7 linked regions of the Homo sapiens genome follow. The protein of the gene in region 5 interacts with the protein of the main gene of each other region in a biochemical or structural test. Each region holds a gene or a part of one and is shown on either strand. Other genes may lie near its edges. The genes, in order: EPAS1, HIPK2, NR1H4, CHFR, SIRT1, KAT8 and SATB1.

The links.
Region 1: of the proteins of SIRT1 (region 5) and EPAS1, one has a biochemical effect on the other in vitro, tested with the Homo sapiens proteins (one study listed by BioGRID).
Region 2: the proteins of SIRT1 (region 5) and HIPK2 form a complex in vitro, tested with the Homo sapiens proteins (one study listed by BioGRID).
Region 3: the proteins of SIRT1 (region 5) and NR1H4 form a complex in vitro, tested with the Homo sapiens proteins (one study listed by BioGRID).
Region 4: the proteins of SIRT1 (region 5) and CHFR form a complex in vitro, tested with the Homo sapiens proteins (one study listed by BioGRID).
Region 6: the proteins of SIRT1 (region 5) and KAT8 form a complex in vitro, tested with the Homo sapiens proteins (one study listed by BioGRID).
Region 7: of the proteins of SIRT1 (region 5) and SATB1, one has a biochemical effect on the other in vitro, tested with the Homo sapiens proteins (one study listed by BioGRID).

Annotation. Positions count from the first base shown.
Region 1 is NC_000002.12:46,380,541-46,384,948, reverse strand, and holds part of EPAS1 (endothelial PAS domain-containing protein 1), read right to left. Parts: coding exon 4,232-4,408; intron 3,354-4,231; coding exon 3,227-3,353; intron 2,975-3,226; coding exon 2,860-2,974; intron 2,525-2,859; coding exon 2,351-2,524; intron 441-2,350; coding exon 289-440; 3' UTR 1-288.
Region 2 is NC_000007.14:139,711,494-139,715,901, forward strand, and holds part of HIPK2 (homeodomain-interacting protein kinase 2), read right to left. Parts: intron 1-4,408.
Region 3 is NC_000012.12:100,472,021-100,477,135, reverse strand, and holds the start of NR1H4 (bile acid receptor), read right to left. Parts: upstream 3,271-5,115; 5' UTR 3,077-3,270; intron 1-3,076. UniProt on the Homo sapiens protein: Ligand-activated transcription factor. Receptor for bile acids (BAs) such as chenodeoxycholic acid (CDCA), lithocholic acid, deoxycholic acid (DCA) and allocholic acid (ACA).
Region 4 is NC_000012.12:132,877,226-132,881,633, forward strand, and holds part of CHFR (E3 ubiquitin-protein ligase CHFR), read right to left. Parts: intron 430-4,408; coding exon 330-429; intron 1-329. UniProt on the Homo sapiens protein: E3 ubiquitin-protein ligase that functions in the antephase checkpoint by actively delaying passage into mitosis in response to microtubule poisons.
Region 5 is NC_000010.11:67,915,656-67,918,890, reverse strand, and holds the end of SIRT1 (NAD-dependent protein deacetylase sirtuin-1), read right to left. Parts: intron 2,627-3,235; coding exon 2,298-2,626; 3' UTR 501-2,297; downstream 1-500. UniProt on the Homo sapiens protein: NAD-dependent protein deacetylase that links transcriptional regulation directly to intracellular energetics and participates in the coordination of several separated cellular functions such as cell cycle, response to DNA damage, metabolism, apoptosis and autophagy.
Region 6 is NC_000016.10:31,123,542-31,127,949, reverse strand, and holds part of KAT8 (histone acetyltransferase KAT8), read right to left. Parts: intron 916-4,408; coding exon 862-915; intron 762-861; coding exon 597-761; intron 1-596.
Region 7 is NC_000003.12:18,393,800-18,398,207, forward strand, and holds part of SATB1 (DNA-binding protein SATB1), read right to left. Parts: intron 3,492-4,408; coding exon 3,380-3,491; intron 1,118-3,379; coding exon 663-1,117; intron 1-662. UniProt on the Homo sapiens protein: Crucial silencing factor contributing to the initiation of X inactivation mediated by Xist RNA that occurs during embryogenesis and in lymphoma.

The sequences.
Region 1 (4,408 bases), on a different chromosome or scaffold from region 5:
TATGGATAATATAAATTAGAAGTCATTGAAGGTGGGGAGGAAAAAAATCCTACAAAATTTAAGAACATTTCAGAACAGGTAAAACAATTGTGTACTTTAAAAATAGGGATAATAAAGTGAGCATCTCAGAAAAAGGCCACTGCTTGGTGACCTGGGCAAGTCTGCCAGGTAAGTCCATCTTGTAAATAGTGTGCTGGCGTTAGAAATACCTAGTTGCAAAAACAGACGGAGAGAGTGAAGCTGGTGGGACGGCGTCGGCAGAGGTGCTGCCCAGGTAGAAGGCCTGGCTCAGGTGGCCTGGTCCAGGGCTCTGAGGAGGTCCCCTCCTTGCAGGAGCGTGGAGCTTCCCAGCACGGGCACGTTCACCTCACAGTCATATCTGGTCAGTTCGGGCAGCAGGTAGGACTCAAATGAGGGCCCGAGCAGCCGGCTTGCCATGCCTGAAAGAAGGGTTGGTACCATAACTTAAAGGCCTAAATCGAACATTTGGAAAAGTGTCTACTTCTTTGTGACTGGGGGATACCAATAGAGCAGCCCTAATTTCACTCTGCTCCTTCAGTGGTGTCTGTCCCACGGCCTGCTGCATGCCCGGGGAACGTGTCTGCCTCCAGAACCACTGCCTCAGGTGGGGTGCTGAGACCCAAGAAAGAGGAAAGCGTGAGGTGCGGGCTGCAGCACAGGTATGTGGAAGCTTCAGGAAGAGCCTGGGGTTGCTGACCCCCATGCCTCCTGGCAGCAGGGAGGAAAGGCTGAACCACCTGGCACCTATGCTCACATACACAGAACATGCAGAACACACACATACATACAGATGCAAACACAGACTGCCTCAAGATTCAACAGTCTGAAAATCCAGTTTCTGGTCACCACCCTCAGCAGTCCTTTCTTCTTGCCTCTGTGCTATTCTCTTGCCGAGGAGGCAGACCAGGGAGTGGCAGGGGGGACACTCGCAGCACACACACAGGCCCCCATCCCAAGGAGGAAAGGCTTAGGTGGCAGCAGAGAGCCTGGAAGCCCTGCATTCTGCCCCTCCGATGGGAGATGCCCACCCACCTTCCCTTATCTGCAGAGCCTCGTTCCAGTGGCCATTGCCTCCTGCACCTCCTAGCTCAGATCCTTGCTGGGGTCCATGCCTGCCTCCCCAGCTTGACTGCTCCTGTGGACAGTATCAATGGATACCTGCTCACCATCCCTTGCTAACTTCTCTTATTCATGGTCAGAAAAGAGTTTGATATGATTCAACTCTTTTGAAAAGAATATGATTTTCCCTTGATTTCAATATTCAAGGTAATTCGTGGGCTTCACATAACAGGAAGAATAGTGCTGGCTACCTCTTACTGCACATAAATATATACCAGCCCCTGAACTCAACAGCAGAGCCAGAATTTAAGCCAGGGCTGTCTGGTGTTTCTACAGCCTGGACTCTGAAGCACAGAACTATAACCTTCCCCAAACTCTATTGCTGAGGAAATTGCCTTTTAGAACAGGGGCCTGGTATGTTTTTCCATAAACCACGAATTATTTTCAGGCCAAACAAACCTCATGAAGACATATATGTTTCACAAGATACTGTCAAGATGAAGGTGGCCCAGGGTTGAAGGCAGGCATTGGTGCCTGCAGTTGAACCAAGTCCAGTGGGGTGGGCCTACCAGAGCTTTCCAGGCTGTTCTACCTGAAGGAAGTTTTGGCATGTTCTCAGCACCTGCCTGAACTCAGAGTGACACCCCAAAACACATCCACATGAAGAACTGAGGAAGGGGCAAGGCTCCGGGATTCTCAGGGTGGAAAGAGCCCTGGATGGCACCTGATCATGGGAGGGTTCTCCCTAAAGCCCCAGGGAAGGAGCACTCCCTTCTCCACGCAGCAAGCTCATCCTTGCATAGACGGGAGATCCCCTGCCTCTGCCCAGACCGCTTCCCAACTCTCTCTCTCTGAACTTTCTCTTCTCTTCTTCAACAGGCCCTCACCACTGTGGCCGCCTGCTCTTTCTTCTGAAAGTGCTCCTGTCAACAGTGGTACAGTGTTCTGGGGGTCGCCAACCCAGTGTTCAGTGTTCAGTCCTCTTTGGGCAGTCGGTAGTGGTCTGCATTCTTTCCTTCAGTATTCTAGCCTGAGTTTGAGTTTTTTAGCTGTGTCTCAGACCCACCCACTGGGGGGCCTGATCACTGATGTCACAAGGAACTTGTGAGGAGGTTCCCTAAATCCAAGGAGACCTGAGCCCTGTATAGGTGACTTCAAGTCAAGCACCTCCCTGTGCCTGGCACTGTGCAGACGCTGGAAAAAAAGTAGACGTGGGCTTCCCCTGGCATCGAATCCTGGGATGGGGGTGACAGATCCTGGGCACACCCACCTGACACCTTGTGGGCTGACGACAGGCTGTAGTCCTGGTACTGGGTGGCGTAGCACTGTGGGGGGAACCTGCTCTTGCTGTTCTCCCCGGGACTGATGGCAGATGGAGGCTGTGGCAGCGGCAGATGTCTCAGGGGATGGCCCAGGCCCCTCATGGGGTTTTGGGTGAACTTATCTGAAAGACCAAAGTCAGAGAGTGACGGTAGCATTGGCCTGAGGGAGGGGAGAGGCCAGGAAGCCCTAGCATCCCTTTCCTTTATAAAAGGTGCTCAGAGTCACCAGAACTACAGCCAACCTTCAGGACCCTCTGATGGCATCATCTAAGTCAGAGTGGAGATGGAAAAGTTGGGTGTGTGGGACTGCGGGAGAGACAGAGGACATCGCCCCATTCTAACAAGGCTCAGAGAGGCAGGTACGGCCTGTGGTGAATGGAAGAACCAGGATGGGCTCCCGAGCCCCAGTCCTTCCACCAGAACCCCCAGGAGGCCCAGGCCTGTGGCCGCTGCTCACCATTGGGTACATTTGCGCTCAGTGGCTTGTCCGGCATCAAAGGGCAGCTCCCACCCCTGAGGTTCTTCATCCGTTTCCACATCAAATGTGAGGTGCTGCCACCAGGTGGGTCCCCCTGGGAGTAAGAAGGGCAGATGGAAAGGGGAAATGGCCAGAGAACCAGGTCCCCAGACTGGGTGGGTTGGGTGGGCCTGGAACAGGGCTGGCACTTGCTGGCTTGGAAGGGCCACATCCCCACCCCTCTCAGCAGCCCTGGGTTCCCTAAGGGCTATGCTGGCTTGGAAGGGCCACATCCCCACCCCTCTCAGCAGCCCTGGGTTCCCTAAGGGCTATGGAGAGGCCCCTGTGGCCAGTGGGGATGACTCACCCCGCTCAGGTCCTGGAAGGCTTGCTCTTCATACTCCAGCTGTCGCTTCAGCTTCAGCTTGTTGGAGAGGGCTACCATGGCCGGACTCAGCACGTCTGGGCCTCGAGCCCCAAAACCCTTTGCAGACCTGCCAAGCCCGAGAGAGCAGGCTATGAGGGAGTCTGGAGCCACATGCCACTCAGTGCCTTCTCATCTTAGGGGCCCTTCCAGTCCCAATGCTGATGCCTGTGATGACTCAAAGACCCAAAAGGCAGAGTCTCAGAGGCAGGCTGTGCACCTGCAGGCCGAGCTCGAGCTCTGTCTCCTTCCTCAGCTATAAGATGCTGAAGGGCTCAAGCCTCCTGGTCTGGGGGATGGCTGCCTGGCTGGGCAATGTTAGTCCTTAGGAGGGTTTCTTCTGCCCATGTCTCTCCTCTGCCTTTTGCTCCCACTGAAAACTAGTTTGGCTGCTCTATAAAGGGCAAGTACCAGCGGCCCCTGGGAGTGGCAGGTCATGTACCAACCCCTGTGCCTTAGCCCAGTGAGCTCGCAGCTGGTGAAATGAGCATGCTGGGGAGATGGGAAGGCATTTCTGGAGCCTAGGCACAGCTGGGAGAGGCTGCAGTGGCGAGGACCCGGGGGCAGCCAAAAGGCAAGGGGAGGCAGGGGTATCTTTTTGCTGTTTTCAACCAGGGAAAATCATCACTCAATTTTCTGTGTGGCTCAGATGATGAACCGAGATACGAAAGGCACTCTGGTGGTGGTCCGAAGGGAGACACTGAGGTACAGGGCTCTCAACAAGCCACTTCTTTGCCTGCCCTCAGTGGCAGCCCAGATAAAAACCCATCCTACACTAGGCCTCACATGGCTTGAGGTGATTCCCCAAAGTCTGAGCTCAGAGAAGGGCTAAATGGGGTATCAGATGGCTGGGGAGAGGGGCAGGGGCCTCCCTGGGGGTCCAGCTATCTTACTAGTGGGTGCCTCTCGGTTCGGCCCTGCTGGTACAGCTGAGTATCTGCCACTTACCTTGTCTTGAAGGTGGAGACATGGGGTGGAGAGACAGGGGGCCCCAACGGCGCTGCTCCCAAGAACTCTGTGCGCTGATCCCCGACGGCCCACTTTGTGGGCCCAAAATGTAATGGTGGATCTGGGGGCCACTGGGTATTGGATCTGCCCCCCATGGAAGAGAGAGGGGTGCTGGCC
Region 2 (4,408 bases), on a different chromosome or scaffold from region 5:
ATGTTCAATTTTTGGGTCCTGGTAACAGTCCTACGTGTTTCAAAAAACTCTAGACAAGAATATTTTGAATAATCCAGAGTAGAAACCAAAAAAAATCTATATATTTTAATCACTGATTACCCTTTGCCTGAATGGCATGTCTTTTTGTTTGTGTTTTTTTCTGAGAGTGGAGTTTAACATTTGGTCTTATTTGTAGTTTACTGGTTCTGCTGATAATGGAAATACCCCAGTACCAATTTATTGCTTGCTCAAAAAAAAAACAAAAAAACTAAAAACAAACAAAATGAACTGGCATCAATGTAGAATTAAATAACAAAAGGGCAGGGGCGCCCAAGGTGAAGTAATACAAGCAAGGATTACCTGCAACTCTGTTCTTTTGGGTGTCAACACCTGAAAGGTGACACCATTAAGAAAATCCCTCTGTCCTTCAGAATAGTGTTTCTCAAAGACTGGTCCTAAGACCCCCTGCCTGGCTCACCTCCAGTTCTCTGAGGCAAGTCTCTGTGGTGGTGGGTGTGGACTTTCTCCCAGGGTACTCCCAGGGAGACTCTGTTCCCAGCAACCTCTCCAGGAGATTCCTGTGCACAGTAAAGCCTGAGAACCTGGGCAGCTGACAGTTAATGACATAACTGACCTTCGAATTGGAAGGGAATACCCCTGCTTCAGACTCGAGAAAAAAACTTAAAAAGCAGCCTTTGTTTCCTGAAAAACACACCAGTGGGCTTGCCTCACAGAATACCAACAGCCACTGTGGCCAGGCACATGCCTGAGAGCTGGGGAAAACAGTTGGCTCCGGGGACACCACCTCCTTTTCCAAGTCCCCAAGGCGAGGATAACATATCCTTGTCTCACACCGTTTCTGTGTCACTAGGTGGGGACAATGGTGGGATGAGACACTTAGCCCAGTCCCATGCAAAATGACAGAGGGACACATAAGTACTCTACCTTTTGAAAGTCAGATGTCCTGGGACGATAATGTGCCCAGCTCAGATACAGGGGGCCGAGGGGAGAAAGTCCCCACCCACCACCTGCAGGACAAAGGCCAACCTGCTGGGAGGCTGGATGCACAGCATGCAATGACTCCTCCAGCCCAGGCGGCTCAAACACACAGCCATTCCCTCACGATGCAGATGCAGCTGAAAGCATCTGAAAGCGTCTTCTTTCTGGGACATGGGCCTTAACGATGGACAATTAAAGAGCTTTTCTTGCCCCCTTTCTTTCCTATAAGAGGCAAAGCCACCAGGAAAATCAACTTGATAAACATGGCCTAGAGCTGGCTGTCCCACACAGCTGGGACGAAAAGAGACAGAGCACTAGAGACTGTCCTCGAAAAATCGGATCGATCTATATGGTGGCAAACCACTGCAGGGCTCAGACAAGGCCTGAGGGAGAAACAGAACATTGCACCAACTTAGAAATGAAGCCTCATTTCAGGCAGAAGAGCCGCTGTCTTTCCTGCTGACCGTATTTTTGGAACCAGGGCTGGGCACAGGGAGGCTGACATGAGGGCCTGAAGGTGACCACAGAAAGGAGAAAGAGGCCTTCTTGCTCAGAATTTTAGGCAATGGTGATTTCAGGGGTGAAAAGAGGGTACTATCACAACTAAACGGAGGGTCCTTCAGAGGGATGTGGGGACACAGGGGCCAGATGTGACTGTGCCTGTCACGAAGTGGGGAAAAGAGGGCTCCTGAGGGCCCAGGAACCGCCAGCAAACCAGCCTACCACACCCACCAGAGGCGTCCAAAAGGCCTGATCTCACCCACAGAGGGGGGCAGGAGAGGATCGCTGTGAGTCCAGGTGAAGGAGTCAGCCCTCCCCAACCCTCACAGGCAAACTTTTACTGCTGCCGCAGGCTTCCTGAGCTAGGATCCCCGATTTTGCGACCTGTCTCCTCAGCACTAGGGGCACCAGCACCAGGCAGGAAAGCAAAGAAAAACTCGCAGAGTCCAAGGGGATGGGCAGGGAGGGCTCCAGGAAGCGTCACATGGGCACCAGAAGGCAAGATGACAAGGGGGTCTTAAGAATCCCCAATTCAGCTTACTCGATTCACCAAGTTTCGCTCTAAGGATGTGCTGCCTTTTAAACAGAGTTTGTCGAAGTCTTTTTACAAGTCGCCATGCTAGCTTTCAGTGAATGTTAATAACACTGGTACGTGTTCATGATGCAGCAATTCAGATGAACTACATAAAAGCCCTAGCAGCCAAGTCAGGGGCTGTTCACCCTGAATTCAGGCCAAGAACTAGAAAGAGCCAGCCTTTGGCATGCTGAATTTACCAACCTAAATACGAAGTGGCACAGCAGCCTCCCAGAGCCAGCACAGCACCAGCTAGCCCCCAATGGGGCTGGTACCCGGGACGGCCACCAGAGCTGGCTTTCAGAGGCCCAGGCACTCTCTACAGAGAATATGTGCTGTCGGTACCGGGCACCCAACCCTCCAGATTCACTCAACCATTGCCCATCCTTCTCCTCTGGAGACAAGGAGAGGCTTCTTGTCTTCCTTGGAGGCTCCTGCCCTGGGCTTACTTCTCCCTGCCATTGGCTCTGGGGCCAGCGGGGCACAGAGTGGATGGCCTGGTCAGGACGAGGGAGTGGAGAGCAAGTGGAGGGGCAGCAGTAGACCCGTCTGTCCGCACGGGGCCTGGTGGTGAAAGCACAGGCCTGTGGAGACCTTTCTGCGCATAGGAAATGAGCGGGAAAGGAATCCTCAGGGCAGGGCAGAGAAGAGGCTCGCAGAGAGCTGTTCTAACTCAGGAAATGCCTCCTAAAGGGAAGAGGGAAGAGACAGAAACAGCATGGGTGAAGAGGCCTCGAAACCTCCTGTGTGAGTCAGGATTAGGATGAAAGGAGACGGGGTGGAAGGTGGGAGGGCATCTGGGGATCCGAACGGAGGGGCTGTTGCTCTCCCAGGGAAGGAGGGCCTGGTGCCCAGCAGGCTGAGGGAGGGGCTGGGAGGAGACTTGCAACAGCTCTGCCTGCAGCCAGGATGGGGGCCCGGACAGGGAGCAAGAAGGGGAAGCTGGCCCAGGTCAGCCCCAGGAATGGGTGACAGGTCAGCTGTGTCGACAAGGCCCTGGGGCATGTTCCAGCCTTCTCTCTGTGGCCTTGAAAGGCGCATGGAGAAAGCACACGGGCAAGCGAGCGTGCTTGCTTGCAAGCAGGATGGCCTCCGGGGACCCCGGTCTTCCTGCCTACGTGGCACGCTCTTAAATGTGCATCCGTCCCATCTTCTCATGGGAGTTTCAGTTTTGTTTCTTGTGACCTCTATCTCCACTGCACTGTTCGGCACCACCCCAAACACACCCCCAGGCTGGTTCCACAGAGCAGGGTCTTGCTTTCCATCCCTGCCGCCTCCCCGCTGTGCACCCGCCATGGCCAGCCACGGAGTGACACACCTAAGCCATGTTACAGCCATGTTACCTCCCAGCTGCCCACGAGGCTGGTGAGAGGATTTCTCCCACTTCATGGGTTAGGAAATGAAGGCATGGAGAAATCAGGCCATTAGGAGAGGAGGGACCAGGTTCACTCTGGCCTTTCCTGACTCCAAAGCCAGCACTCCGATCTCAGCTCCATGTCGGCAGCGGTTCCAATCCTGACTGCATACAGGGGTCCCTGAAAAGCTTCCAGATACCCCAGGATGGCAAGGGCCCTGTCTATATCCCTATACCTAGCACTGCGGCTGGCACATATTAAAAGTGAAATCAAAGCTTGTTGAATGACTGCATGTGTGAGTCCATGACTGAACACACTTCCCTGCCACGGACACTATCATTCCTCCCTCATCCTGACCCAAAGCCTGAAGTCACCTTACCACAGGAGCCACCCAGCTGGCCCCAGACTAGTCTCTCCCTTCCTCCAGCCCTTCTGCACGTGGATAGACAAGGAACCTTCTCGGAACATCCCTTTCAACCCGTTACCTTATGTTGTTCAAGGTTTCCAGGGCTTGCTCTGGGTTTGAGGATACAGTTGCAATTCCTTGATCTGATATTTAAGACCCCCAGTGACCTGGTTCCAACCAGGCTTTCACTCACATCTCCCACCACTCACAAACTGTTCTGGCCAGGCGGGTGTCCTTCTTGTCTCCTGTAAATTCCCACTAGTGTGACTGCGGACTGTGGATGGCACATCCCTCTCTCTCCACCACCTGTCTGGATCCTACCCATCCGGGAGGACGGAACTCTTCTGCTCTGCACCCCAGGTCCCAGGGAGCCCTTCCAACGCTGAACACCTGTGCCACGGATCTTACCTGGCTCCGTTCTAATGTGACTTCTAATTGACATCGCAATGTGCACATGTCCTAATTTCGTAAGTACATTAAGATCACTTGAAGGCAGGAACTGTAGACATATAATTTTATCTCCCCACAGTGACTAAGGTGGCACATTCTCTGTGAGTGCCACTGGGCATTCAG
Region 3 (5,115 bases), on a different chromosome or scaffold from region 5:
AAATAATTCACTGTGAAGAGCAAAGGGGTTAGGGGATTCCAGAGCAGGGTGAGAGAAGGGAGAGAAAAGACAGAAGGATGAATATTTGTATGTAATAATGATTTTTGCCTCCTCATACAGCTTGGTGACTAAGGACACTCGTATGGTGATGCCTTTTAGCTACATCTTCACTGGTAGAAACTACTGTGACAATAAAAAAATACCTGGGAGGAAAATTGTTCCTATTTCTTATTTTTTAAAAAAAATTTTGAGGTGGTGTCTCTCTATGTTACCCAGGCTAGAGTATAGTGGCATTATCATAGCTCACTGCAGCCTTGAACTCCTGAGCTCAAGCAATCCTTCCACCTCAGCCGCCCGAGCTGCTGGGATCACAGGCACTCATCACTGTATCTAGCTTGTTCCTATTTTCTTTTATTCCCCTTTATAATCTGTGTTGCTAGAGACTAAGATAAAAATGAGACTGAGAGCAAAGGGAAGGGAAATCTCTTTCTATGAAGTAAAGAACCTTTTCTGTCCTTTATGCACCCACCTAATGACAATGTGAGCCTTTGAAAATCTATCACATCATGATATGCATTCTCATGGCATTCATAATCCAGAGACTGTGAGCCACAGCAGTTCTGAGCTCCTCTCTAAGATGTCCCTAATCACAGCAGCATGGAGAGTTCATTGTGGTCTTTAATTAAAACGCTGATAACGGAAATATTCACCCAGCTATCTTAGACTGGTCTCTGGGTTAAAACAAATAGTGCTCCAAACTTTCCAGTTTCCCTACTGATGGTGCAATCTCTCGAAAATGCCCTATGCAGGAGGTTTCAGGAAACGTCTAACTAGTTCCTGGGTTTAACAAATCACCCCTGTCAGGCTGGAATGCTTAACGGCTGGTCCCCCCTCGCCGCTCCCCGATCATTCCCCATTTCAAGTTTTCCCAGCCTCCGCCAATAGCCAATATCAGAGTAGCCAGGAAGAGGCTTTGGAGTCAGAAAGACCCGCCCTCAAGTTCAGGTCCCGCTACTTCCTAACTATCTGCCTGTGGACGGGTCACTTGTATTTTTTGAGTCTCAGTTTTCTCATCTGTAAAATGAGTATAAGAAAAACTCCTGGCTGGGCGCAGTGGCTCACGCCTGTAATCCTAGCACTCTGGGAAGCCGAGGCGGGCGGATCACCTGAGGTCAAGAGTTCGAGACCAGTCTGGCCAACATAGTGAAACCCCGTCTCTACTAAAAATACAAAAAATAGTGGCATGGTGGTGCACGCCTGTAGTACCAGCTACTCAGGAGGCTGAGGCAGGAGAATCGCTTGAACCCGGGAGGTGGAGGCTGCAGTGAGCCGATATAGCGCCACTGCACTCCAGCCTGGGAGACAGAGCGAGACTTTGTCTCAAAAAAATAATAATAAAAAGTAAAGAAAAACTCCCATACAGGGTTTTTGTGAGAAGGAAACAGGCGAATGAAGTAAAGGCTAGGACATGTTAGTAGACATTGTAGAAAAGTTAGCTCCATCACACACTCATACATACACACATTTCTTTTCTTTTCCTTGCAGAGTACAAAGGCCTCACAACCAATGGATATTCCATTGCAATTGGCCCAATCTTGAAGAGGTGGAAACAAGAGGAAGGACAAGGATTCCATGACTTTCCCTCTCCAGCTGTGAGGAGAGGGCAGAGGTACGTGGTGGGAAATTGCTGCAAATCTTGAGGAAGGGTCTCAGGACAAGAGAGCTTTGTCCCTGGCCAGTACTTTATCAGTTAACCAGGAGTTGCATCAGTATTTGTTGCAACATCCTCAGAAAACAGAAAAGTCCACGGTACAAATGGCACAGATCCATAATTTGGAGGACTGGGGGTAGGAACGTAACACAAAGATAAAAGTGTCTATCATTTTATAAAATCACAGCTAGAAACAAAATGGTAGCTCCCTGAACATCTTTTCCTCTCTTCTCCCTTCCTTTTTTTAGGAACAGAAAAAAAAATTTAGATAGATAGATAGATAGATAGATAGATAGATAGGTAAACCACTTTACTGAGGTGTGACTGACATATAAAAGCTTTACATATTCCATGTATACACTTTGATGAGTCTGGGGATAGGCATACACTCATTAAATCATCACCACAATCTATACCATAAACCTATCCATCACCTCCAAAAGTTTCTTCCTGCCTTCTTATTTATCACTAATATTATTTCTAAGGGTTCCTACCCCTCTTGTCAATACTCCTGAAGTGATTCTAAGACAGCACCAGAAACAGCATCAGATTTCTTTATAGCTCAAAGCTCAGGTGTGAGTTTCTTAGAGGAAGAATTCAAGGTGAGTCACTTGTCATTCCCTCCTGCCCCTCCCTTCTGAATAAAAACCCAATTAAAAGAAGTAAGTCAGGCTCCACAGTTGCCCCATTCACTCTGTCAATAAGGAGACAAAGAGGTATCTTATCTATAAATTTAGTCCTTGGACAATTTTATTACTAAAGTTCTTCGTCATACTCACATTTCTATCTTTTAAAAATATTTCCATCTGATATTTCCTGTCATATTAATATTCAAAATGGAAAGCAATAGAAGAGTTTACAACTGAAGTCAAGAAAGAAGACTTTTTCCACCTACTCTTCTTCTAGGGAAAAATTTCATTTCAATTAAGCATAGGTTAAATGTCTTATTCTTAGTTCCCAAGTCATCTGACATTAGCAATACTCCCAAACTCACATCAAGATTTGATAAATCACCAAAATATAGCACACTATACAAGTCAAATTGTTTATGGAATCAGAACGGAGACATTTCTGAAATGCACTATCTCCAGTGATTTACTCAGGTGACCACAATGTTAAAAGAGTATTTCTAAATAAGTTTTCAATAGGTAAGCAACTGTTAAGACTCATTAACTTTTGCTTCTGCTTCTTTTTGTTTTTTAGTTTCTCTCTTTTTTAATTTTCAGGACTTTACATCAAACTCTACTAACTTAGAATTCATTTATTGACATACATTACAGATGTCAAAGAGAAACTTTTAAGTGACTATTTTTTCTCTGTTGCTGTGAGATACACAACCCACTCCCAAAGGAATTAGGTACTTACTTGGATTGTTTTGGGTCAGAGATGGACTTTCAAGGCCCTGGGAGGATTCTGGACTGAGTCTTCCTCTCCAGATCCCAGCGATTTTGCTACAAATGCTCAGAATCCAATTTCGCATTAGGATAAGTCGGGGAGACAATGAGGTGAGGAGGAGGAGAGAGTTCCAGTGTACTGTGCATGATCACAGGCGGCCTTCTGGGCTAGCAGCAGCATCTCTTCCTTGGCTCTGTGCCTCATGGACACAGATTAGTCATTAACAATCCTTCCCTGCTAAATGATATAAACATAGAAAGGAACCTTGGGAGAGCCTCGAGATTCCCAAGACAAAACCGCAAAGCCCCAGAATGAGGAATGTGACAAAACCAAGGAGCCCTGCAGCTTGCCTTTGAAAGCATTTCTCCTCTGGCCGTTTTGTGGGCTCCTGGGCACCCGTATTTCTGTACACATCAACTAAAACCAAACTGTCATCTTCCCTCTCTCTCACTACAACTTCTTTGAATAGCTCTATCACTTCCCCGGGACTGAACTAGAAGCTGGGAGCCTTTTTGACCCTTCCCTCTGCCCAGCCACCCATATCAAATAATAACAGATTTGGGTTGATTGCATCTTTGGAATGTCTCTTATTTCCAACCCACATTGTTCTTCTCCTACTTTGGGCCTATCATAGCTTCCTTTCTGGATGACATTGGTCCCACAACCCCTTTTTCTTCTCTCCCCTTCTTCTGTTTTCCAAATTGCACAGCAGTGTGGAAGCACAGGCTCTGGTTAGATGCCCACTCTTTAGTCACAGCCTTGAGCAAGACACTTAGCCTCTCTGAGTCTCAGTTTCCTCATCTGTAGAATGGATATGGAGAAACCATCTCATGGGCTGTGGTGAGAATTACATGAGTAGTGAAAATGTTTAGAAAAGTGTGTGGCAGATAGCAATCACCCAATAATTTGTGGCAATTATTATTTCTCTCCTTCATTAGTTGAACCATCATTGATTGATTATCAGCCTACTATGTACCCAGCAACTTGCTAGGCACTCCCCTCATCGAAAATCCCCAATGCACTCTCTATGCCTAAAAAACGAACACAAAATGCTTGACATTTAGAACCCCTTCCACACCTGAAGATCTAGCCCTAATGTCTCTAGGATTTTCTCACATTCTGTCCCTTCAGACATCCCAACCTCTGCCAACCTGTACCAAGCTCTCCCGCCTCCACACTTTTGCACAAGCTCTTCCTTCTACCTCAGTTACTTTCTTTTCACACCCACACATCTTCCAGGCGTGGAACAGAAGCAGAGTTCTCCCTGAAGCCAGCCCCATTCCTCATCTGCCCCTATTCTCCCCACCCAACTCCCTTGATCTTTTATTTGTAGTTTCCTTGCTGTCCCTTAAATCCTCTGACCTTATATATTATAGTTTTCTACTTGTTTTATCTCTTTTACAAAAACCAGGCATGGTAGCAGACTTGTCTTTGTATCTACCCTTTGTCTTAGCACAGTGCCTCTCACAGAAAAAGCATTGTGTAACTCTTTGTTAACGCAATCAATGAGTGAGCTGAGAAACAACTTCCCAAAGCAGCATGGCTGCACATGCACCTGTGTGTGTGTGTGTGTGTGTGTGTGTATGTGATGTGTGCATTTCCCATCTGTGATGTGTGTCATTTGTTTCCCGTCACAAGGTCAGCTAGTAGAAGATCTACATTCAAACCTGTTAGAAATGTTATATTTTGCTTCTCTTATAAAATAGCATTTTTGTAGGTCCTACAGGCTCCTACTTCCTACCTACTTCTGGGGGTTCCCAATGTACTATGGTGCATCCTCCAGCCCCTTCGGCACAAGGAAGAGGGTCACCCCAGGCCTGTACATTTTCTTTTGAAGAGAGTTTGCACTGACACTTACTGCACTCTGCAGCTCTGGGCTGCCTGAGGGACTCCTGTGTGACTTCTATGTGACACCAAGCCCATTTCTTCTTGGATGATAAGAGCCTGTACTGTGATTTCATTCTCTCCAGCAGAGATGGAGACAATGACTGAAGACACAGACTGTGGCG
Region 4 (4,408 bases), on a different chromosome or scaffold from region 5:
TTCAGTACAGTAGCACGCTGTATAGGTTGATAGCCTAGGAGCAATCGGCTATACCATATAGCCTAGGTATGTAGTAGGCTACACCATCTAGGTTTGTTTAAGTATACTCCATGATGTTTGCAAGATGATCAAATTGTCTGACACATTTCTCAGACTGGATCCCTGTTGCTAAGGGACACATGACTGTGCTGTTATAAAAATGAGCCGCTGTTATCACACTAAAGACAGCATTTCTTCTCCTCCTCAGCCGTGGCACACAGCACAGAGCACGAAGTCAGGCTTCTTAAGCTACAAGAAGAAACACCAAAAGAAGCTCAGAACATACTCACCTGGTATCTTCCAGTGTCACCTGACCTGATTTTTCATCCACTACAATTCTACAGTGATCTCCAGAGACCAGTTTATTGCTGGGGAAGGAAAGGTCGCAACCTAAAAAAGAGAGGGTGGGTCAACACGGGATATGATCGTGGTAACTGTGAACACTACTGCACTTTGTTTACCAAAGTATGTGGTTCCAACTCAGGATCCCCATTGTACATATGTAAAAAAAAACACTTGACCAAGAAAGACATAAAGAAATTTTTTTTTTTTTCTTGAGACGGAGTCTCGCTCTGTCGCCCAGGCTGGAGTGCAGTGGCACCATCTCGGCTCACTGCAAGCTCCGCCTCCCAGGTTCACACCATTCTCCTGCCTCAGCCTCCAGAGTAGCTGGGACTGCAGGCGCCCGCCATCACGCCTGGCTAATTTTTTGTGTTTTTAGTAGAGACGGGGTTTCACCATGTTAGCCAGGATGGTCTCGATCTTTTGACCTCATGATCTGCCCACCTTGGCCTCCCAAAGTGCTGAGATTACAGGCGTGAGCCACCGCGCCCGGCCCATCCTGAACCTTTCTGAATCCCCACCCTCTCAAAGACACCCATCAATACCTCCAGTTACACACAGCCTCTTAAATGGCAATTTTACAGCCAGGCGCAGTGGCTCATACTTGTAAACCCAGCACTTTGAGAAGCTGAGGTGAATGGATCACGAGGTCAGGAGTTCGAGACCAGCCTGGCCAACACAGTGAAACCCCATATCTACTAAAAATACAAAAATTAGCTGGGCATGGTGGCGGTTGCCTATAATCCCAGCTACTTGGGAGGCTGAGGCAGGAGAATCGCATGAACCCAGGAGGCAGAGGTTGCAGTGAGCTGAGATCGCGCCACTGCACTCCAGCCTTGGCGACAGAGCTAGACTCCAACTGGAAATAAAAAAAAAAAAAAGCAATTTTACAATATGCTTGCATACACAGCTAACCTGATGAGTATTATTAGAACTTTAAAAAAACTCAGGGGGTTGGCTAGGTCCGGTGGCTCACACCGAGGCGGGCAGATCACAAGGTCAGGAGATCGAGACCATCCTGGCTAACACAGTGAAACCCCATCTCTACTAAAAATACAAAAAATTAGCCGGGCGTGGTGGCGGGCGCCTTGTAATCCCAGCTACTCAGGAGGATGAGGCAGGAGAATGGCGAGAACCCGGGAGGAGGAGCTTGCAGTGAGCCGATATGGCGCCACTGCACTCCAGCCTGGGTGACAGAGCAAGACTCTGTCTCAAAAAAAAAAAAAGAAAAAAAAAAACTCAGGGGCTTAAGTAATTCTTCAGTATCTTAATTTAGTCCTTAATTTCTTTTCTGTGTAAACTTAGGTTTCATAAATCAACATAAAATTGAAGCAATGACAGTCACAGAAAAAGTGACTGAGCCAACTGTGATAGGCATTTGTTTTTTTTTTTGTTTTTGTTTGTTTTTTTTTTTTTGAGATGGAGTCTCGCACTGTCGCCCAGGCTGGAGTGCAGTGGCACCATCTCGGCTCACCACAACCTCCACCTCCCAGGTTCAAGCCATTCTCCTGCCTCAGCCTCCTGAGCAGCTGGGACTACAGGCATGCGCCACCATACCCAGCTAATTTTTTGTATTTTTAGTAGAGACGGGGTTTCACCATGCTGGTCTTGAACTCCTGACCTCTTGATCCACCCGCCTCAGCCTCCCAAAGTGTTGGGATTACAGGCTTGAGCCACCGCACCTGGCCTGCGATAGGCATTTGTACACGTATAAGAAACTGCATCTTATATACAGGGATGCATCTATAGCTGAATACAGTAATTCTGACACTTTGGGATTTTTTTTTTCTTTTTTTTTTTTTGAGACGGAGTCTCTTTCTGTGGCCCAGGCTGGAGTGCAGTGGCACGATCTCAGCTCACTGCAACCTCTGCCTCCCGGGTTCAAGCGATTCTCCTGCCTCAGCCTCCTGAGTAGCTGGGATTACAGGCGCACACCACCAGGGCCAGTTAATTTTTGTATTTTTAGTAGAGATGAGGTTTCACAATGTTGGCCAGGATGGTCTCGATCTCTTGACCTCGTGATATGCCCGCCTCGGCTTCTCAAAGTGCTGGGATTACAGGCGTGAGCCACCAGCGCCCGGCCCTGAATACAAAAGCAAGAGGGAAAATCCTCAATACTTGCCCTCTCCTTAAATCAAAAGAACAAAGGCGTTTTAATATCTCATCATTAATCATTACTGCCTATAATAATCTATAAGGATACATAAAGATACTAGAAGACAAAAAAGCGAAGGGTTTGGTCAGGAGACAGTGGCATGCAAACATACTTTTCCTAAACGTTCCACACAGAAAGACACCCTGAATCTGCTTTAGCCTGAGCCTTGCTCCCATCACTGACCTATGGGTGTGTGAATCAGAAGACTCAGTATTGTTAAAATGTCAGCTGTCCTCCAGATTGTTTCATACATTCAATGCAATTCCAGTCAAAATCCCAGAGGGCTTGTAGACACTGACAAGCTGATTCTAAAGTTCACAGAAAAAACGTGTAGAAAAACCAAAGCAATTTTGAAAAAGAATGAAGCTGGAAGACTCATATTACTTAACTGACTTACCATCATGCTATAGTAAACAATACAGTATTGTGGCTGTGTAAGGATGGCCAGACAGAGACAAATGTAAAATCTAAAACTATGAAACTTCCAGTGGAAAAGACAGGCAAAAATCTTAGTGCCGTTGGGTCTTGCATGGACTTCGCAGATAGGATATAAAAAGCACAAACCAGGAAAAAATAATAATAATAAGCTGAGGTTTGTCAAAAGTAAAATGTGGGCCAGGTGCCGTGGCTCACACCTGTAATCCCAGCACTTTGGGAGGCCAAGGGGGGGGCGGATCACAAGGTCAGGAGATCGAGACCATCCTGGCTAACATGGTGAAACCACGTCTCTACCAAAACTACAAAAAATTAGCTGGGCGTGATGGCGGGCGCCTGTAGTCCCAGCTACTCAGGAGGCTGAGGCAGAAGAATGGCGTGAACCCAGGAGGTGGAGCTTGCAGTGAGCCAAGATGGTGCCACTGCACTCCAGCCTGGGCAACAGAGCAAGACTCCGACTCAAAAAAAGAAAAAAAAAGTCAATTCTGGGCCAGGCGTGGTGGCTCACACCTGTAATCTCAGCACGTTGGGAGGCCGAGGCGGGCGGATCACAAGGTCAGGAGTTCAAGACCAGCCTGACCAACATGGTGAAACCCAGTCTCTACTAAAAATACAAAACTTAGCCAGGCATGGTGGCGGGCGCCTATAATCCCAGCTACACGGGAGGCTAAGGCAGGAGAATGGTGGGAACCCAGGAAGCGGAGGTTACAGTGAGCCGAGATCACGCCACTGCACTCCAGCCTGGGCGACAGAGCGAGACTCTGGCTCAACAACAACAAAAAAAGTAAGGCTGGGGGCGGTGGTTCACGCCTATAATCCCATCACTTTGGGTGGCCAAGGCGGGCGGATCACTTCAGACCAGGACTTCGAGACCAGCCTGGCCAACAGGATGAGACCCCATCTCGACTAAAAATACAAAAAATTAGCCGGGCATGGTAGCATGCACCTGTAATCCCAGCTACTTGAGAGGCTGAGGTGGGAGAACATGGGAGGTGGAGGTTGCAGTGAGCTGAGATCGTGCCACTGCACTCCAGCCTGGCAACAGAGCGAGACTCCATCTCAAAAAAAAAAAAAAGTAAAAATCTGTTCTTCAAAGATATTGTTTAAAAAGATGAAAAGACAAGCTATGGACTGGTGGAAATATTTGTAAAACACATATCTGACAAAGATCTTGTATCCAGAATGTATAGAGAACTCTGATAACTCAATAAATAGAAAGTAAATAATGCAACTTAAAACAATTTAAACACTTTATCAAAGAAGAGATATGGATGGCAAATTAAGCACATGACAAAATGCTCAACATCATTAATCTTCAGAGAAATGCAAATTAAAACCATGAAATACCACTACACACCAAATAAGAATTGGCTGAAAATACTGACCACGGGCCGGGCACGGTGGCTCACGCCTGTAATCCCAGCACTTTGGGAGGCC
Region 5 (3,235 bases):
TCAGTAATACTTTCGCCCTCAAAACCTTTAATGGCTTAAGTAGGTTCTCAGGTCAGCCTCAGAAAGTTGATACCAAATGTGGTCTGCAGTCTTCAGACTTGAAAGACCTAGCATCCCAGAACAGATTTTCAGTTAACCCAGCCTTTGCATCAGATGGATTTTCACTATCCACCACTTCCTGTTCTCTCTCAAATCCCAAACTCCTGGTCCTTTATCATAGGACATGTCACATCCTTCTTAGGCCCTGCCCTGCCTTTTCTCCATGTTTTACTTGCTCAGGCCTCTAGCCTAGAATGGCTGAAATAGTTTTTGAAATGCTTGGTGGTGATGCATCACCTGCTACGATCAGCACCATCAGGGTTTTGCAAGTACTGGTCTGGTGAGACTAATGTAATAAACCAAATGAAGAAATGTAGTATGAGAAAGAAAGCATCTAATACTATAGCATTCGAAGCTGTACAAATTCTGTAAGACTTAAAAATTATATACCTTAAACAATGTAAGTTAACAGAAAAAAGTCAAATGACAATTTTAATAGACTTTAAAACAGTGTACAAGTAAAAAACACTGGTTTTGTATTTCAAAAGTTGAAGGAAGATATCCAGTCATTAAACAGTCTACAAAACATATGCCAGTAAATTACATAAAAGACTATGTACAATATAAAAAGAGCTGAAAACAGTCTTCACTGTAAAAATAATTTAAAACAAACTTTTCAATTTAAAATATCATCTATAGCACACAAACATCATGCAAATGGAAAACTAAATATACTGCATTCTTTAGTGTAGCCAAATAAATTCAGATTGAGACATCTTATAAGTAGGGAAATGGCCATTCAATACGATTTTTTTCTCTGGCAGTAATGGTCCTAGCTGGGTGTTTTATGCATAAAGAACAGCTATATTTCAAACCCTTTTTATTGTAATAAATACTAAAGCAACAGAGGAATACTTTATTAATTTAGGAGTGATGTTCAAAAATGGTCTGAAAAATAAATGCTTACTGTGCAATTTCATAAAGTATGAACTTCTTGAAAGACTAGAAGCTTTTGCAGCTGAGAAAGTTGATCTCTAGTTTTAAGGCAGGCTAAGCTTTTAAATAAAGATAAATTATAAGAACTAGTTTCATTCATTAACTATTCTGCTATTACAAGTTACATCATCATGTTCATCTCCATAATACTAGGGCTAGCAGTTTGGTATTTAACACCAAATCCTCCCAATGGGAGACATGTACTTTCTGGCTGAATTACAATTAACATCTTATTACTTTGGAACTGTATAATCAGGGGCCTGTTGCTCTCCTCATTAATGGAAAACAGCAGTCCAAAATATTACACTCTCCCCAGTAGAAGTACCATTATTATAGATTCAGAAAGGCTTTGCATATTCACATTTTGGCAGTTTAATACTTGTGGAAAAGATCAATGCAAGCTCTACCACAGTGATAGGTATTTAAACAACAATGGCAAATATTTCAAAACTAAGGGGATCCAGGCAGGCACTAATGTTTCTAAAGCAACTGAAACATTTCCAAAGCATTTATTTGTTTTTCAGGTTAGTTTTATGAGCCAATATAGACATTGCTACATGTCCACAGGAAGTACAAAAGCCATCTTCATTTGAACGTAAATACAATAATCCTGAAATTCTTAGCACCAAGTATTACTTTTAAAAGTAAAGACAACCGAGTGCTCTCCCCACATATTGTTGACTTCCTTCTACTCACACTGCATGTCATTTGAGATTTTAAAAAGTTAGCTGCCACAGTTTTGGAAAATGCCAGTGTTTAAAAATAATTGTGTTAAAGAATCAAAAGTTTAGCGTAACAGATTTTGAGTACTTCAAACCATTCAATGTTACAAAGAAAAGTGAAAATACCATTCTTTGGTCTAGATTAGCTGTTCCCTTTACATTAATTTAACATTCCGATGGCTTTTTGAAAACTTTAAAAATGTTGAAACTCACTAGACAAAACAAAAAAAATTATATATACACATATGAATTTATCATACAAATGAACCTTTAAAAGAAAGTTAGTCTTGACCAACAGCTGATTGAAGATACTTAGTACCTTTTTTTTTTTAAAAAAAAAAAAGTTAGTGTTGAGTTTGTACAAGTACAGAAATAATGAAGTTAAAAATTATCCATGAAAAACAATCTATTTTACCAACCTATAAATATTACACCTTTCTGGTTTCCTTGCTCTATCGAGTTCACAAGTAAACATTCATTTTGACATGCTAAAGTTCCTAATGCTGGTGGAACAATTCCTGTACCTGCACAATTATTACACTATGATTTGTTTGATGGATAGTTCATGTCTGTTACTTCCTGTTTCACAGATATAGCTTCATTAATTGCCTCTTGATCATCTCCATCAGTCCCAAATCCAGCTCCTCCAGCTCTCTCTGGAACATCAGGCTCATCTTCTAAGCCATTGTAGAATTCTTCAATTTCACTTTCATCCTCCATGGGTTCTTCTAAACTTGGACTCTGGCATGTCCCACTATCACTGTTACTGCCACAAGAACTAGAGGATAAGACGTCATCTTCAGAGTCTGAATATACCTCAGCGCCATGGAAAATGTAACGATTTGGTGGCAAAAACAGATACTGATTACCTGAAATACAGTAATAAAAATGTTACTTTCAGTTTTCTAACACTAACTCAGTCTGAGCAGTCTGGAATGAAGTGTGGGTTCCAGCTCTGCCTTTATTATAAGTGTCCTTATGAAAGACTACTATTAGTGTTTAAAAACAACTGGGAGGCATGGTGTGCCTGCAGTCCCAGCTACTCAGGAGGCTGAGGCAGGTGGACTGCTTGAGCCCAGGAGTTCAAGGGCCAGCCTAGGCAACAGAGTGAGGCCCTGTCTCTTAAAAATTAATTAATTAAATAAATACAAGCAATACACTTAGTCCTGGGTTCAAATCTTAGTTCTGCCATTTATTGTATCTTTGTAAGTGTACCTCTGTGCCTCAATTTCCTCATCTAGAATATGAAATAAATTTTCACAACCCTATGAAGGAGGGAAGTGTGAAAAATGTAGAAAACCATATTCAATAAAGGTTATTTCACCAATTATTTTAAAAAGATTTGATGAAAATGAAGTATCCAGCCCAGCCTACATTAGATACCCAATTTGTGTTAAGTAGCTTCTCTAAAGTACACAGGCTTTTAAAGCATCTTCATTAACTATTTTAACTTTTTTCTGATTATAAACCTAAAATAT
Region 6 (4,408 bases), on a different chromosome or scaffold from region 5:
TTTCCCCCCTCAACACTTCACCTACATCGAGTAATCCTCCCAGCAGCCTTAGGAAAGTGATCCTGCTTTTACAGACCAAGGCCCAGGCACAGAGATCCAAACATCACACAGCACGGTGGGGTTTTGAGTCTCTGTGGGCCTGGCTCTGGAGGGACCCGTCCATGACAATGGCTTCCCTAAACCACACCTATTCGCTTCAGATTCCACACTTCGGGAAGCAGCCCACTGTGTCAGTGATGAGAGCGCCCCTTCCTGACAGCCCCCAATTTCATCCACACTTAAGGTCCCACTGCCAGGGGCTATGTGTGCTTCCTGGGATGGAGCTGGCCTTGGCAAAAGACCTGAAGGGGGTGAGTTACTGTCCCCATTCCAGAGAAGAGGAGCTGAGGTCTGAAGTTGGCAAGGTCACCCTGCCAGCAACAGCAAAGCCAGGCCTGGAATCCAGGCCTCCTGACCCCCAGCAGCTCTTCCCTGTACTCGCTCCTTTGGGCCTGTCTCCTCCCTGGAGCTGCCGGCGCAGCCGCCCTCAGTCTCCATGCCTGCCTCTGCCTCTCACCGGGCCCCTGCCCAGCTCGGCCCGGCCGGCCCAGCCTCACCAAGTGGAAGCGGTAGCTCTTCTCATATTTCATGTACTTGAGGCAGTACTCGCAGAGCCAGAGCTTGGGCTGTTTCCCATAGTCTTCGGGGAATGGTGAGAAATACCAGGCATCAATTTCGTAGTTCCCGATGTGGATCTTGTCCACATACTTCACCTTGGTGATCTGCAGGCAGGGTGGGAGTGAGGCACAGTGCACGGCTCAGCAGGGGCTCCTCGGCAAGGGGAGACGGGGGACCTGCAGGCAGCTTCCCAGCCCCACTTACCGCCTCATGCTCCTTCTCCAAGGCTGCTGTGGTGGGGTCCATCTCTGCATAAGTCTGGGCCAGGAAAGAAAAGTGGGCAGAGGTGAACAGAAGTGGTGACCAGGCTGTCCCTCCCGTCAGGACCCACAAGGCTTCCCTGCCGTCTACCAGACCTCATTCCTGGATGGCAATAATAACCACACCAATAGCTAACCTATCTGACTTGGTTCTGAAGCTGGCTGGTCCAGACTCCTCTCACACCCACCCGCCCCACCCCCGATATCCCAGACATCCCTGATGTCCAAGTTTGGACCTTTTGCCAGATGAACAGGGTTAGGATCAGGATGGGGCTTCAGCTGCACGATGGGGGGCAATCCAGCTCTGCCAAAGTTGTGAGACTCAAATGAAATAACAGATTTGCCTTCCAGGCCCAGCGTAAGAACTGTTACTACCTCCCCGATGTTCCTGGACCCCTTTCCTGAGGACCAGACCCTGCCTGCCCATGCGACTGCCCCAGAGGTCCCTCCCACAGGGACAGCGGACTCAAGATGTGCAGAAAGGACCTCATCACTCCTCCCTGCAAACCTGCGCCTCCTCCTGGGTTGCTCATTTTACTGGGAACATCACCCTTGGTCCCAGTGTCCAAGACCCATAACTAGGCTTGCCTCAGACTACTCTCTCTCCCTCGGCCTGGCCAAGTCCTAATACAGTGGATGTCGAGTCTACTTCTGACATCTCTGGAATTGGGCCCTCTCTGGAATTCTCCTCTCTGTCCTGCTCCAGGTAGTCATGGCCCCATCTCAGGTCTGGACAATTTACTAGGCCGCCTCAGACTCCCTGCCTCCAGCCCCAGCCTCCTCATTGCTATCAGCAGCCCCCTTTTAGCGGCCTTCATGCTTCTGCACAAACAGCTCCTTCTACCTGGAGAATGCCCTTCCTTCTCTCACTGCCAGCAGAAAACACTTCCTCAGCCTGGCACGGAGCATGAGTCAGGTGAGTCCATGATGCTTTGTGATCTATCCTTTGTCACTGTTGTTATTGTGCTCTTTCCCATCCTTCAAGGCTTGAGATTCTTACCACCCCCTCCAGGAGGCCTGACTGGATTCTTCCCATCCAGAAAACATTCCCTCCTTCCCAAGTTCAGCGAGAAGTGGTCAACAGGGCAACACTGTCCAAGTATGCCCACCTGGGTTCCTCTATTTTTCAAGTCCTTAGAAAGCAGAGACTAAGAGTCACACCACACTCACAACACATCCTGCTCCTAGGCCAGACCCTGTGGGAGGAACCCAGTACAGCCTGACAATGGAAGGGGGACCCAAGACGGTCCATGACCTACACCAGGGCAGACAAGGCCCTGCCCTGTAGCTGAGAAGGGAGGAAGGAGCCAGTGCTTTACCCAGAACCCCCTCCACAAAGCACTGTGCCTATATGTTTATATGGCCTCATTTAATCCTTTCAGTAACCCTTACATAGAGTGTTATTTCTTTTTTTTTTTTTTTTTTTTTTGAGACGGAGTCTCACTCTGTTGCTCAGGCTGGAGTACAGTGGCACCATCTCGGCTCACTGCAACCTCCGCCTCCCAGGTTCAAGCAATTCTCCTGCCTCAGCCTCCCAAGTAGCTGGGACTACAGGCACATGCCGCCACATCCAGGTAATTTTTGTATGTTTAGTAGCAATGGAGTTTCGCCATGTTGGCCAGGCTGTTCTCAAACTCCTGACCTCAGGTGATCAACCAGCCTCGCACTCCCAAAGTGCTGAGATTACAGGCGTGAGCCACTGCACCCAGCTGCGTTATTTCAATTTTACAGAGTAGTAAACAGGCAGGGCAAGGTGAGGTCCCTTACCCTCGGGGACTAGTGAGCTGCCATTTATTCCAAGTGGCAAGCACGGCACAGACATGTTTTTTTTTTTTTCTTCTGAGATAGACTCTCACTCTGTCGCCCAGGCTGGAGTGCAGTGGGGAGATCTCAGCTCACCACAACCTCTGCCTTCTGGGCTTAAGTGATTCTCCTACGTCAGCCTCCCAAGTGGCTGAGACTACATGTGCCTGCTACCATTCCCAGCTAATTTATTTTGTTTTTTGAGATGAAATTTTGCTCTTGTTGCCCAGGCTGGAGCAATGGTGCAATCTTGGCTCACTACAACCTCCACCTCCTGAGTTCAAGCGATCTTCCCACCTCAGTGTCCCAAGCAGCTGGGATTACAGGCGCCCACCAGCAAGCCCGGCTAATTTTTTGTATTTTTGGTAGAGATGGGGTTTCACCATGTTGGCCAGGCTGGTCTTGAACTTCTGACCTTCAGATGATCCACCCACCTTGGCCTCTCAAAGTGCTGGGATTACAGGCATGAGCCATAGCCTTTTTTTTTTTTTTTTTTTTGAAATGGAGCCTCGCCCTGTCGCCCAGGCTGGAGTGCAATGGCAAAATCTCACGTCACTGCAACCTCGCCTCCTGGGTTCAAGCGATTCTCCTGCCCCAGCCTCCCAAGTAGCTGGGATTACAGGTGTGCACCATCACACCCAGCTAATTTTTTGTATCTTTAGTAAAGACAGGGTTTCACCATGTTGGCCATGCTGGCCTCCAACTCCTGACCTCGTGGTCTGCCTGCGCCTGGCCTCTTTTTGTATTTTTAGTAGAGACGGGCTTTCACCATATTGGCCAGGCTGATCTCGAACTCCTGACCTCAAATGATCCAATCATCTCAGCTTCCCAGAGTGCTGGGATTACAGGCATGAGCCACTGCACCCAGCCGACATTATTTCATTTTGTTCCTCACAATGAGCCTTTGAAATAAGAGTGCTCATTGTCCCTGTTGTATGAGAGAAAACTGAGGCACAAAGAGGTGAGGTCACTTGCCCAAGGTCACAGAACTGGTACTCAGCAGAGTTGGGCATGGGCCCCTGGTCTGTCCAATTCTGAACCTAACCACTGTAAAGATGAGGAAGAAAGATTTTCCTCCTCACACATCTCTTTAAAACACATTTCCCAATTCTCACAAAATACAGTACTCTTCTGCAAATGCAATAAAGAACTACAAAAACACTACTTTTCTTAATTGTTGCAATTTATTTAGAATTAAACATTAATTAGGCTCTGAAGAACCTTGCTGATTGTTAACTGGATGATTGTTTCATTACCTATTCTTTGATTTTATCACCACTGGCCCGTTATCCACCCTGCTGGTTGCCAACTCAGAGGTATGTCTTTGTTGAGTGCAAAACAGTTGAGGAATTAATCTTAGATCTACACTGTCCAATAAAGTAGCCACTTGTCACATAGGGCTATTTAAAATTATACTCAGCTAAACGTGGTGGCTCACGCCTGTAATCCCAGCACTTTGAGAGGCCGAGGTGGGAGGACCACTTGAGGCCAGGAGTTCCAGACCAGTCTGGCCAACATGGCGAAACCCCATCTCTACTAAAAATAAAAAATAAAAAATAGCTGGGTGTGGTGGCACACGCCTGTAATCTCAGATACTTGGGAGGCTGAGGCACAAAAATTGCTTAAGCCAGGAAGGCGGAGGTTGCAGTAACCCAAGAGCTCGCCACTGTACTCCCGCCTAGGTGACA
Region 7 (4,408 bases), on a different chromosome or scaffold from region 5:
TATTTACTATCTGGTCGATAACAGAATAAAGTTTGCTGATGCCTGGTCTAGACAATGAATTTGGAAGACAATAGCATGAGGGAGCGCACACAGCTTACAAATATTTTATGTTAATAAGTCATATAATATTTTTTCAAAATGGCTGCTTAGAATTAAGTGGATTATTGCTTCCAAGGTGTTAACAACAACAAACAACAACAACAACAACAACGCTGCAGTAGAACTTTAAGAGGGAACATTTATATACCTAAGTTTGATATGGGTAGTAACAACATAAATGGAAAAGACAATAGGCTAGAAGCCTGGAATCCTGCCAATAGCCTTGACTGAGTCATGAAACTTTTCTTAACCATCTACTATAGCTTATGATTCCATTATATAAAAGCATAAGTAATGCCAGTTTAAAGTACGTTTGACATTTAATTAGTCTTTCAAAGGCCCTGAATTGGGATCAATCTGCACATAGGTTCCCTTGATTCAGAAGTATATCATAGGAAAAGGAGTGGTAAAATTGAGGCTCCACCAGGAATAGGTAATATGATCACATGAAGAGAGAGAGAAAATGTTAGTACAGAAGTAAAAGAATAAACTTTAGTTATAGATGGGACTAAAGAAAGAGAAAATAGGAGACAGCACAGAACCACTTATGAAACACAACTGACCTGAGTTCTGTTAAAAGCCACACGTGCAAATACCGCCTGGGAGATTCCTGCTCGTTTCAGTTCATCGCGTACCCACTGGTAGATTTCGGAAGACACCTCTGTGTTGGTCGAAACCTGTTGCTCCAAAGGCTTATTCATAGATCTACTGACAGGGGGAGGGTGGTTCAAGTATTGTTGGTTTAAGGACTGCTGGGCTAAAAGTCTATTCACTGCATACTGCTGGTTCAGCAGCTGAGCCATCACCAGCTGCTGGTTGACCAATTGAGGACTGATAGGTGTTGATACGAGCCCAGGGTGCAGGTTTGGAAGAGGTGTCCGGACAGAGGGCTGGCTGCCATGGGAGAGCTGCGCAGGGGATGGAGGCTGCTCGGCTGTGTTCCCTGGAACTGGTTGCTGGCCAAAATTGACATGATTGGCGCCTTGCTGGGATAGCTCAGAAAGACTATCCATTTCAACTAAAGTGGACAAAGAGTAAAATCACATTCAGCCAACAATGATTGGCATTGATAAAGATTTCTAACCATTTCCTAAATTAAAAAAGGGTAGGCACAGGGCACACCCCAAATCCAATAAAACCAAGAAAATTTCAAGTTGCAACTTACCAGGCTGTGTTTTTGCTCTCCTTTCCTGAACAATTCTACAAACTTTGGAAATGGGACAGCATTCCTAATCTTATTTTTAAAAAGTGGTTTAGATTTAAGGCATAAAATCAATTATTACCCAAACTCTTTCCAACTAGTTGTTCACTCTCACTTATTACCCCAAGAAGGCTTCTAAGCAACAATTTTTAAAAATGGCTTCTAAAAGAATGTCATTTGCTTAATGACAACTACAAACAGTGAGCTGAGCTGAGAAAATAAGCTTATAATAAGCAACTAAAAAAATTTACAAATATATTCTCATGATATTCATTAACTTTAGTACTCTAGGAAAAAGGTGTAAAAGAAAAAATATGACATAAAAAGTCACCTACTTTCAATTTTTACCCAGCAGTGAATAGAAGTAGTTAATGTAATAAATAAAAATGGGCATAATAATAAGTGTATATTGAACACTTGCTGAATATCTTATATGCCTTGCTTCATTTTAATTCTAACCATCATGGGCAGTAGGTATATCTGGAAATACTTTTTAGAATAAAGCAAGTGATTTATTGTATATCAAGCCAGCATACCCAGTGTTGCTAAGATCCAAATGTTTTTTCTTCAGGAAGCTATGGCCATCACCAGATGCTAAAGACAATCTTGCAGGGAATCGTTCTGGTACAATGGTGAGGCTGTCATGATTTTGCAATTTATTCCCACCTACCCAGGATGAATGCTTCTTCCTTGGCTAGGTTCCTCATATGGATTGGCTGAGCATCATCTCTAAGTATGTAAATGCTTTTCTGTACGAAGAGGAGACTGGTTCGATGCTCTTGGCTGGAAGGGCTGAGCATGAAGCTGTACATAAACAGGACTTTCCAAATTGTACACAGACTTCCCACATGTAGACTCTAGTTTGATTTTAATCATCAATTCTCTTTTCATTAAATATGCAGGTTTTACATTTAGAGGAACTTTATCATAGCGCTATAGCTCCTGATATACGCAAAATATAACTAAGAATTGGGGAAGAAATCTTCAATTTCTACCAGTGATATCAGCCCAAGTGGGCCATTCACAGAGAACAGTAATTCAAGCAATTATTCCAAAAATGATGCATTGTCTTCATTACAGCCTTAAGCTATAAAAGGCAAAGAATCCATTTTGGTAGATGGATGGTTTTTCTTCAAATATTAAGAGCTAAAACTTGCTCAAAATTTGGATTAATTTTTCTTAAAAAATTAAAAAAAAATTAAATGAATGTAAAGAAATAAATAGAAATAGATTTAAAACAGGACATAATGCCCATTCCTATATTATTTTAAAATATATGTTTTGGAGGGTAAAAGTAGGTGAAAGAGAACAGTAATAAAAATTAAAACATTAACCTTAATCACAGTGTTTGCTTTTGTGAACATTAACAAACTCAACAGAGAGAAAATGCCATCATCTAAATGCTTAGGTACCATACACAACTTTTATCTATCATTTTACACTGCAGATAATTTTAGTGTACTTCTTGCATAACAAATATTCACCTAAAGTTATGTGTTAAGATAGAATGCTACCTTGGAATTAAAAGTTCAGAAATGATGCAATAATTGTTCTGGTATGGATGGTAAAGCAATGTGCTTATCAAAGTGCCCATCCATGGCGGCTGGGGGTTAGAGCTATAAAAATCACTTGATCTCTACTGTGGAAACTATAAATAGTTTAATTTAAGAAGTTTAATTTCCTTTAAAATTGGGTGTAAAAATAGGCACTTTCTCATTCAACCAGACAAAAACAAAAAACCTAAAAGCAAGACTTATCAGAGAAAGAAATCACAGCTAATATTAGTTATTCAAGGCCTGGTTAGGTCTTCACTGAGTTGTTAAAAAATGACAGCTCCCCTCCCAACGCCTCAATTTCCTGCATGTCTGACAACCAAGTCAGTTTGGCTGATTTAAACACAAACATTTATTGAATTTAATTATCTCATTATACTCATACCCACTTCCCACCCCCAAAGAAACATTCTAAATTGATCTCTAATTGGGCAATCAAAAGACCTGGCTTTAGATGTGACTTTGATAAACCCCCAAATGACACGTAATGGTATGTAGCCACTGCTGCAATGTTTTTTTTGCTTACCCATCATATCTTTTGTCTTCTTGAAATGTTTGTACCACCTTCCAAATTCTTGACATTTTGCTGCTGAGACATTTGCATAGTAAGTACTGTTCACAATGGAAGAAATCATACTCTGCATGAAGAAGGGGGGAGAATATTTGTAATACACAGCAGCACAAGATGGAACACAGAAATGATCTCAATTGTGGCAACTGTATTTTTTTAATCAACTGAGTACCAATACATTTTGGTTTCACACTTTAGCCTAAAGCTTCGACTTCTTAATATTCATTAAGTAGATCATCAAATGCTTATTTAAGTAGAAAGCAACAGCCCACTGAGACCAGTATAAAGCTATCAAACCCACAGACTTTGCTCTAGCATTCATTGAATCTCCATCAATGCCATCTATTACTAGGCTGTCAAACTCACTGGTCCCAATAAATCCAAATACATGAAGATGACTTTATAATTGTGACTCATAAATATACGAGACTTCGCGATTTTTTGACTGGACTCTACATCTTTTCTACTCAAAGTATAGACCAGGGACCAGCAATATGGGCATCACTTGGAAGCTTGTTAGAAATGCAGAATCTTGGGCCCTACCCCAGACCAGTGCACTTAGCAGCTGAATTTTACCAAGATCCCAGGGGATTCACATGTATATTAAAATTTGAGAAACAGAACTTGCACTTTCCACTCTATTATTTGGATTTAAAGTGGACGCGCATTAACACTGATCAAAGGTTAACTGACCGTATTTGAGAAGAAACAAACTATTCACAGAGATCCTCTATCAAGAGAAAAACATTCTGCAATCTTATTACTGGCTTCATCAATAGTAAAGCTTAAGTTTTGAATTTCAAACCGATCATAAAAATTTTAAATTTATACATTTCATGCTTCTAAATTTCTCAAGGATACCACAAAAAGATGACCTATCGTGACTTATCTTTATCCTGCTTTTAATAAATGCCCGGAAAACTGTCAGCCCTTTAACATACAAAAATGAAGAAAAACATGATTTTAATGAATCACTAGGAGGGT